Homo sapiens: one gene and its partner. The protein of the gene in region 1 purifies or fractionates together with the protein of each later gene. This does not show direct contact. Each region holds a gene or a part of one and is shown in the gene's direction. Other genes may lie near its edges.

Region 1 (5,129 bases):
GACTAGGAGGTGAAGATAAAGTGCTTCAGGGCCTTAAATGTTATGCTGAGCATATACTTCATTCCAATATCCATCAAGTGCTACTATTTGTATTTTAAGATTCCTATTCTTACTATCAGAAAAGGAATCTCTGATATTTAGATGAACTTTATAGAATGCAAATTATAAAACTGAATCTGACCCAAGTTTTATAGATCCTTTTAATTCAAAGGAGAGAAGCATCTTTTCTTCATTCGTGCAGTAAACCTTTATGAAGCCCTTGCAATGGGTAGGAATTATTCTGAGAGCTGTAGGGGATGGATGGCCAAGGCATAGTGCCTAGTACATAATAGGAGTGAAACAGATATTTCAATAAATAAATCAATGAATGATGGGACAACTTTGGCGACCAAAAAAGTTTTAGACATTGGGTTTGGTGGTAATGCATAGAAAAAAAAAAATAGAAATCTATTTTACTTGAAAGCATCTCCCTGTCATTCCATACAGTTTTACTTCTCACATGTTTACCTCTATTCAAAGGGGTAGTGGAGTGGAAGGTTGCAGGGAGTAGGGAGAAAATTGCTCAGATAGAAAACAAAAGAGCAGCCGGGCGCAGTGGCTCACGCCTGTAATCCCAGCACTTTGTGCCGCTGAGGTGGGCAGATCACCTAAGGTCAGGAGTTCGAGACCAGCCTGGCCAATATGGCGAAACCCCATCTCTACTAAAAGTAAAAAAAAAAAAAAAAAAAATAGCCGGTCATGGTGTTGTGTGCCTATAATCCCAGCTACTCGGGACGCTGAATTAGGAGAATCGCTTGAATCCAGGAGGCAGAGATTGCAGTGAGCCGAGATCATGCCACTGCACTCCAGCCTGGGCGACAGACCGGGACTCGGTGTAAAAAATAAATAAATAAATAATTTTAAAAAATAAAAAGGAAAAAGAAAAGAAAACAAAAGAACAAAACAATAAGTGCAGTAGCTACATAATTTCCCCTCCAAGTGATTCAAATCACTGATAATTGTAATAATAGCCAATATTTACTGAAGATTTATGTGCCAATTTTCTAAAGGGCTTTGCATGTTATAATTTATTTAATCACAACTCTACTAGAGAAGTTTGTATAGACCAAGGGAAGTTGTATGACTTGCCACAAGTTACACAGCAAGAAGTAGCTGAGCTGAGCTTTGAACCCAGAACACCTGATTCCAGAGTTTATGCTCTAAACTTCTATATAATACATCCCTTCTAATACTATGTATACAACTGTTTTATAGGAATAAATCATTGAAATAGAGGTATGGGAAGGATAATGATTTGAGGAGACCAAGGGACAAAGAGATGGACAAAAACAGAAAAAATGATGCCACAATATTTTTTACTATTTTTCAGTCTTTGAGTGATTGCAGTATGACTCCATTTCCCTGGTGCATTCATATAATAGTTCACCTGGTGAAAACAATGAAGATTATTTACAATGCTACCCTGCTTTTTCTGGTGTCCTGAACCTGGAAGTTGTGCTTTTTAAGGTAATCTCTTTACCAAAAATTATTAAGAGGAGGAAGAGAAAAAAAAGAGTTGGTTTTGACACATTAAAAAGTAGCCAAACAAAACTCAAAAAGATAGCAGCAAATGATAAAATTGAAACTATATTCTACATTATATGAAAACATATTCATAATAATAGTGTAATCTGAAGAAATGTTTTGTTAGATTCACTTGTACTTATAGTTTCTATTATTACTGTGAAATATATCATCTTTTTAACTACATTTTCTAATTGTTTCTAGTAAATGGGAACATGATTGATATTTTTGTATATTTATTTTATATGCTGGAGCCTTCTTAAATTCTGTTTATTCTAATAATGTATAGATTTTCTTGGATTATCTGTTAATTAATTATATTTTGAATAATGACAGTTTCTTTACAATATTTCTTTACCTTATATTACTGTGCTAGCTAGGATCTTCAGTACAAAGAGGAACAACAGCATTGGTAGAGGATTTCCTTATTTTGTTCCTAAATTCTACAAAAGTTTCACCTTTTTTAGTAGATTGTCTTTCTCAAGTTAAGGAACTTTCTTAATGTTCCTAGTTTGCTGAGAGGTTTTATTACAAATATTATGAAGTTTTTTCCCGTCTATATGTACTGCCACTTTCATATCCTTTCTTCACCATTAATATCACAGTGTGACCATGTGATAAATTACAATAATCAATTTTCTAATGTATTTCTTGCTTTTGCTTTCATCGAGCCTCGTCATTGGATATTTGGTTCCTATTTTAATCATTTTGACTTTTATTTTTATATTGAACTTTCTTCTACTTTCCTTTTATTGTTCTTTTTCTAATTTATTGAGTTGAATCTTTAGCATCTTAATTTTCAATGTTCTTCTGTAAAATAAGAATTTAGAACTATAAATTTTCTTCTACCACTTTAGAAATATTTCACAGACTTTTATATATAGTATTTTTATCATTCAATATTTATTATTTTTAAATTTCTCTTATGATTTTTTTGACCCATGGTTTGTTTTTTTTCAATTTCTAATCATATGGGATTCCTTTTTTAAAAAATATATTATGAAATCATTACATTATTCCCATTCTAGTTTAACTTTATCTTATTTTTCTTTTTTAATTTTTTTTACATCTATAGACTTTATTAGATGTTCTTTATACAGTCATCTGGTATGTATAAAGAGTGAACAATCATATAAAAGGAAATATGGTCATAACTGATTGAATTAATAAAATCCTGAAACTAAATAACTCATAATTCATTGCACAACATATATTAGGTTTCATTAGATCAGTATATAGCTTAGTAGTAAACTCTCCTGATGGCCATAAACCTCTAAGGTGTTGTCATCCTGAAAAATGAAGGAGGGGAGGGAGCTGGTGGGGTGCAGAATGGAGAAACCTTCCATAGTGCTGGTGTGATGTACCCTAAGTTGTAAAGTTATAGGGCATCGCCACCTAGTGGCAGAATTTCATGCCTTGTTCTAATTAAGGGACTTTCCTTGTTTTCCAAAGAGCAATGTGTCTTGTTCACTTTCTAACCATCCCTCTCTGATGCTGTCCTTCCTAAAATCCATGCCTCCTCCCATACAGTGTAAACCCATCTGCTTTTCATCCATCAAGCTGTCAAGGATTTGGTTATGACAATTTTTATGTTCACCTAACTTTTTAGTTCCAAGTACTTCGGTTATTTTCAAAGCTACACACAGGATGCCCATATTTTTATAACTCCATCTTATTTGTGAAGGATTATTACTTTGTGCTTTGGCCTAGTTTTTATTCTTACTGCTGAATCTTTTCATAAGTTAAAGTTATTGCAGAGTTAATGCTTTAAAAGGCAGTCCTTAGAGTAAATAGCTAAATGAAATCATTACCAAAATGTACACTTTGGATTTATTAAGATTCTAGAATTTAAAAACAGGAAAAGGTGCCATTAGTGAAAATTCCATCACTAACATTTTGGTACCACTCGTAGAGCATCACATAAATATTCAGACCGTGATAACTCAGTGCAGGAATGTTATCAAATATGTCCATGCAATCTGGAACTAGGACCAGAGTTGGCAATTGGGGGTCTGAAGGCCCAACATCCCTTACACTGCTTCCTACACCTTGACAACAGGAAGGCTGAGTGATACTAGGTAGTGCACTACAACAGTGAACATAAGCCAGCCATCTGTTTTTTGCAAAGTATAATAAAATAGAAAAACAGAACATAGACCACTTCAGAGCAAACAAACATATCCTTCTTCAAGATGTAGGAAAACCATATATTCAAAACCAATCTCAAACTTTAAACAATAAAAGATATCAAACATTTTAAACTGTACAAAGCAAATTAGCAAGATTTTAATGTTGGCAGTTTTAAAATGTCACCCATCCAAAACACAAAACAGGGAGATAACCAAGTCTTAGCTCCATCCTAATCAAAGCTGTCATGCAGATCCAGTTCCACTCTTCTCATCTCCAGCAGGTACTTCACTCAAGGAGGTAACACCCAAGGGGAGTAGATGGACCAAAAACAAGAGTGCCACATAGAAGGAAGAGAGGGGACCTTGGACTTTAGCTACTGGTTAGCTATTCAACTTTGATGATATTCAGTGTTTTCCCAAGTTATTTTTTCTCGCTTCTCATCACATAATTTACATTATGCATACTATGTGCCAGAGACTGTTTGACATGTAGTCAGTTAATTTTCACAACTGTGTAAAGTTGGTTTCTATCATTAGCTCTATCTTAGGGCCAAAGAAACTGAAGCACGGAGAGGTTAAATTGTATTCCTAAAGCACTACACAGTGAGCAAATAGATTCAGACCTGTGCAGTCTAACCCAGAATTAGCTCTGAATCACTCTACCATTCTGTCTACAGGACAACAAGCCTGTGTGTTTCAGGTACTTTCATGGTGATTTTTCACACAGGACAGCTTTTGATAATAGAAAGGCCCTCTCTTTCAAATGAAAGGACTTCACTGATGGATTAACAAATTCTCACCTTTTCACCTATGTGAGCCAAATACTAGATCTACTTTCTTAGTCTTCATAACAAGCAGGACGATAACCATAATTTATAATGAACACAAAACATTGATATAGTGTTCAAAGAACTTTTGCACACTTGGTCTCGTTTGGAAGAATGAAGTAATCTGGAAACATAGAATAGGCATACACTGTGACTTTAGGAAGAACTCTCACAAAATCAGAGGTTGCCCTATGTAATATCACACTTTTTACCTTGAGCAGGTGGATAGCCTGGGAGTTCTTGTTATACCTCAATCTTGGTCCATTCTATTTGTTCCCCTGTCCTTCAGCAGTGCCCTTAGGCTTGCTTTAAACATTAACAGCATTCATAAGCATGGTTTCTAGGGTCAGAGCCCAGCCTCCCTCCACCCACCCGGCTCCCTACACACCTTGACAGTGCTCTTTGAGATGCCTCAGTTCTAGTCTCCTTGTAATTGTGCACAGTAGATGTCTGAACAAATAGACCAGAGTCCTGCAAAAGTGATCTTGAAATCACAATTAAAAGAGACTTTGGAGAGATCTACTCAGGAAAATTTTCTGAATAGACAAATGCTTTTAAAGGGGGTTCTAGACAGTCCGTCTTTTCTGCCTCCTTCTGCGAAGTAGGGCTA
Region 2 (4,315 bases), on another chromosome or scaffold:
TTAAAAAAAAAAATTTTTTTTTTTTGAGACAGAGTCTCACTTTGTTGCCCAGGCTGGAGTGCAGTGGTGCGATCTCTGCTCACTGTAACCTTTGCCTCCCAGGGTGAAACGATTCTCATGCCTCAGCCTCCTGGGTAGCTAGGATTGCAGGTGCGTACCACCACACCCGACTAATCATTTCTATTTAGTTGAGACAGGGTTTTGCCATGTTGACCAGGCTGGTCTCGAACTCCTGGCCTCAAGTGATTCGCCTGCCTCGGCCTCCCAAAATGCTGGGATTATAGGCATGAGCCATGGTGCCCAGTCCATTTAACACTTTTGATTGAATATGTACTTGTCTTTTCCACTGACCAGACTGAGTTCCTGTGGGCACGTAGTGGTTTTCATCTCTATATACCAGATCAAAATAGTTCATAGTGCAGGGCTTACCACATAGTAAGTATTTTATATACTCCTGTTGAATGAGCGAGGGAGTGAATGAATGAACAAAAGCCATTAAACATTGTGGGAATGTAAGATTAATACAGTTTTGTTGTTAGCAATAGCCTCTCTTTTTTTTTTTTTTTTTTTTGAGACAGAGTCTCGCTCTGTCGCCCAGGCTGGAGTGCAGTGGCGGGATCTCGGCTCACTGCAAGCTCCGCCTCCCGGGTTCACGCCATTCTCCTGCCTCAGCCTCCCAAGTAGCTGGGACTACAGGTGCCCGCCACTATGCCCGGCTAATTTTTTTTTTTTTTGTATTTTTAGTAGAGACGGGGTTTCACCGTTTTAGCCGGGATGGTCTCGATCTCCTGACCTCGTGATCCGCCCGCCTCGGCCTCCCAAAGTGCTGGGATTACAGGCGTGAGCCACCGTGCCCGGCCAATAGCCTCTTTTTAAAGGCTAGCATTGTGTCAGTTGGATAGTTGGTGGCTGACCCCTGTCCTTAAGCACACAGCCCCCTTTCCTAGCCTCTGATAACTCAATAAAATGCAGTCCTGCAAAGGGGTAGCTGTTTGCTAATGATCTCAGTTTCATCATTCTTACCACTATTATAATTTTGAGACTTGGCTTTTTTGTGTATTTCAGGGCAGGTGACATTACGGAGTTAAAAATTCTGGAGATACCAGGACCTGGAGACAACCAACATTTTGGAGACCTTCATCAAACAGAATTAGGCCCCTCTGGTGCTGGCTGCCAAGTGGGCATCAATCAGAATGGCACAGGCAAGTTTGTCAAGAAGCCAGCCTCTTCCAGCAGTGCCCCTCAGAATATCCCTAAGAGGACAGATGTGAAGAGCCAGGATGTTGCCGTTTCCCCGCAGCAGCAACAGTGCTCAAAGAGCTATGTCGACAGGCACATGGAATCCTTGAGTCAGTCCAAAAGTTTCCGTCGTCGGCACAACTCCTGTAAGTAGGGTCAAGTTGATATTTCTTCTCAATCTGGTGTTTCAGGGCTATAAGCCATAAGCACTGCTGCTCTTTAAACAAATCCTTTGTTATTCCAATAAAATGGATGCTGGCTGAGCGTCACAGAAATACAACATGGTTCTCTTCCTCCAGGCCTCATTCCTCAAGATGTTAAGGGAAAGGAAATAAGCTGTTAGGGATGCCTGTGAGCTTCCTGCCCTCTCTTACCACTTCCTTCAGGAAAAGTCTGCCCAGAGTTTACTAACAGTGATGTTTTAAATCCAGGAACTACTGGGCGTGGTGGCACGCATCTATAGTCCCAGCTACTTGAGAGGTTGAGGCAGGAGGATTGTTTGAGCCCAGGAGTTCAAGGCTAGTCTGGGCAAAATAGTGAGATTCTGTTTCTGAAAAAGAAAAAAAAAAAAACTTAAATCCTGTTACTGATGTTGGTAGTAGTGTTTGAGTTGAACCTGCACTTGGGCTGTTCCAGAGGATTCTTGAGTAACTTTTCTTCCTGTGATTTGAGTCTCATCCTCAGAAGAGAGGAGGGGACTGATCCAAACATCTCTGTGATCTTTGATTTTCTAGCAGACAATTTTTAATTTGCTGTATTTGTTCCTACTGACACACCAAGAAGAATGTGCATTGGTCTCTGTTGCTGCCCAGTTTTGTTTGATACTAACACATTATTAAATGCCATTTGCTGATTATAAAACCATAGTTGTGACCAGGCACGGTGGCTCACACCTGTAATCCTAGCACTTTGGGAGGCTGAGGCGGGCAGATCACCTGAGGTCAGGCGTTTGAGGCCAGCCTGGCCAACATGTTGAAACCTCGTCTCTGCTAAAAATACAAAAATTATCCGGACGTGGAGGTGCATGCCTGTAATCCCAGCTACTTTGGAGGCTGAGGCAGGAGAATCCCTTGAACCCAGGAGGCAGAGGTTGCAGTGAGCTGATATTGTGCCACTCCAGCCTGGGCGATAGAGCGAGACTCTGTCTCAAAAATAAAATAAATAATATAAAATAAAACCATAGTTGTGTTGGTGGTATGATGGTGAGCATAGCTGCCTTCCAAAACCATAGTTAATTCACTAGAACTGTTCTTCTCCAACATATTTACTAGAATAATGTTACAATAGCGAATCATAACATTCACTGGAATCTGTTATGCTCCTTAAATTAATATGAATGTTGTTTTAAAAAATTACTTCCAAATGCCAAACTATTCTTATTTTACTTAGATGGTTTTGTACTCACAGATGGTAGCAGAATGTATTAGAAATTTTAAGTGAGAGGCTGGGTGCAAGTGGCTCACACCTGTAATCTCACTACTTCAGGAGGCTGGGGCAGGTGGATCGCTTGAGCCCAGGAGTTCGAGACCAGCCTGAGCAACATGGCAAAACCCCATCCCTACAAAAAAAAAAAAAAAAAAAAAAAAAAAATTAGCTGGGCGTGGCAGCGTGCACCTGTGGTCCCAGCTACTCAGGAGGCTGAGGTGGAAGGATGGCTTGAGCCAGGGAGGCGGAGGTTGTGATTAGCCAAGATCATGCCACTGCACTTCAGCCTGGGTGACAGTGTGAGACTGTCTCAAAATGAACAACCAAAAGAAATTTTAAATGAGTATTCATTAACTCATTTAAAATTATAAGCTAGAGTCATGCTATGGCAATACCTTCTAAAAGGCACAATTTAGAGTGAGCTAGGTCTCTCTAGACCCCACTCAGAAAGTTTATTACATAAAATTCCGGATACTTCTTGCTACCATTGTTGCTCCTCACACTGTGGTCCTGGTGGCAATGTAGTAAGGTTTTAGTGTGCTGGGTGAATTCTATTAGTAGCTTGTGGTGTGACACCTGTGTCAGGGGCCAACATTTTAAGTTTTGGAGATGCCTGATTCAAGTGAATAAACAACTAAATTAAAACTAATTTTTTTTTTTTTTTGAGATGGAGCCTTGCTCTGTTGCCCGGGCTGGAGTGCAGTGGTGTGATCTTGGCTCACTGCAACCTCCACCTCCCATGTTCAGGTGATTCTCCTGCCTCAGCCTCCCTAGAAGCTGGTACTACAGGCACTTGCTGCCATGCCCGGCTAATTTTTTTTTTTTTTTTTTTGAGACAGAGTTTCGCTCTTATTGCCCAGGCTGGAGTGCAATGGCGTGATCTTGGCTCACCGCAACTTCCGCCTCCTGGGTTCAAAAGATTCTCCTGCCTCAGCCTCCCGAGTAGCTGGGATTACAGGCATGTGCCACCACGTCTGGCTAATTTTGTATTTTTAGTAGAAACGGGGCTCCATGTTGGTCAGGCTGGTCTCAAACTCTCGGCCTCCCAAAGTGCTGAGATTACAGGCATAAGCCACTGCGCCCGGCTAATTTTTGTATTTTTAGTAGAGATGGGATAATGCCATGTTGCCCAAGCTGATTTCGAACTCATGACCTCAGTTGATCTGCCTGCCTCGGCCTCCCCAAGTGCTGGGATTACAGACGTGAGCCACTGCACCTGGCCTAAAAAAATGTTTTAATGTATGTAATATACAGTTTCAAGGTAGTTTCCTTTGGTGCATATGAAACAACTATCTGAAATGACGATGTTTGCAAATATGAGACTGAAATTCAGTTGTGACTTCTGTATCCTTAGAAAAACTGTAGAATGCTTGGATAGAAAATGATTCTTTCCATTTAGACTTTAACCTTTTTCTTTCTTTCTTTCTTTCTTTCTTTCTTTCTTTCATTCATTTTTGAGACAGGGTCTTGCTTTGTCACTCAGGTTGGAATGCAGTGATACGATCACAGCTCACTACAGCCTTGAACTCCCAGGCTCAAATGATCCTCCCACCTCAGCCTCCTGAGTAGCTGGGACTACAGGTGTGTGCCACCATACCTGGCTAGTCTTTTTACTTTTAGTAGAGACAAGGTCTCACTATGTTGCCCTGTC

The links. The genes of interacting proteins can lie anywhere in the genome.
Region 2: the proteins of NBDY (region 1) and EDC3 purify together in Homo sapiens (co-immunoprecipitation; one study listed by IntAct). This does not show direct contact.

The regions. Positions count from the first base shown.
Region 1 is NC_000023.11:56,730,694-56,735,822, forward strand, and holds part of NBDY (negative regulator of P-body association), read left to right. Parts: intron 1-1,369; 3' UTR 1,370-1,506; intron 1,507-5,129. UniProt on the Homo sapiens protein: Promotes dispersal of P-body components and is likely to play a role in the mRNA decapping process.
Region 2 is NC_000015.10:74,668,525-74,672,839, reverse strand, and holds part of EDC3 (enhancer of mRNA-decapping protein 3), read left to right. Parts: intron 1-1,065; coding exon 1,066-1,385; intron 1,386-4,315. UniProt on the Homo sapiens protein: Binds single-stranded RNA. Involved in the process of mRNA degradation and in the positive regulation of mRNA decapping. May play a role in spermiogenesis and oogenesis.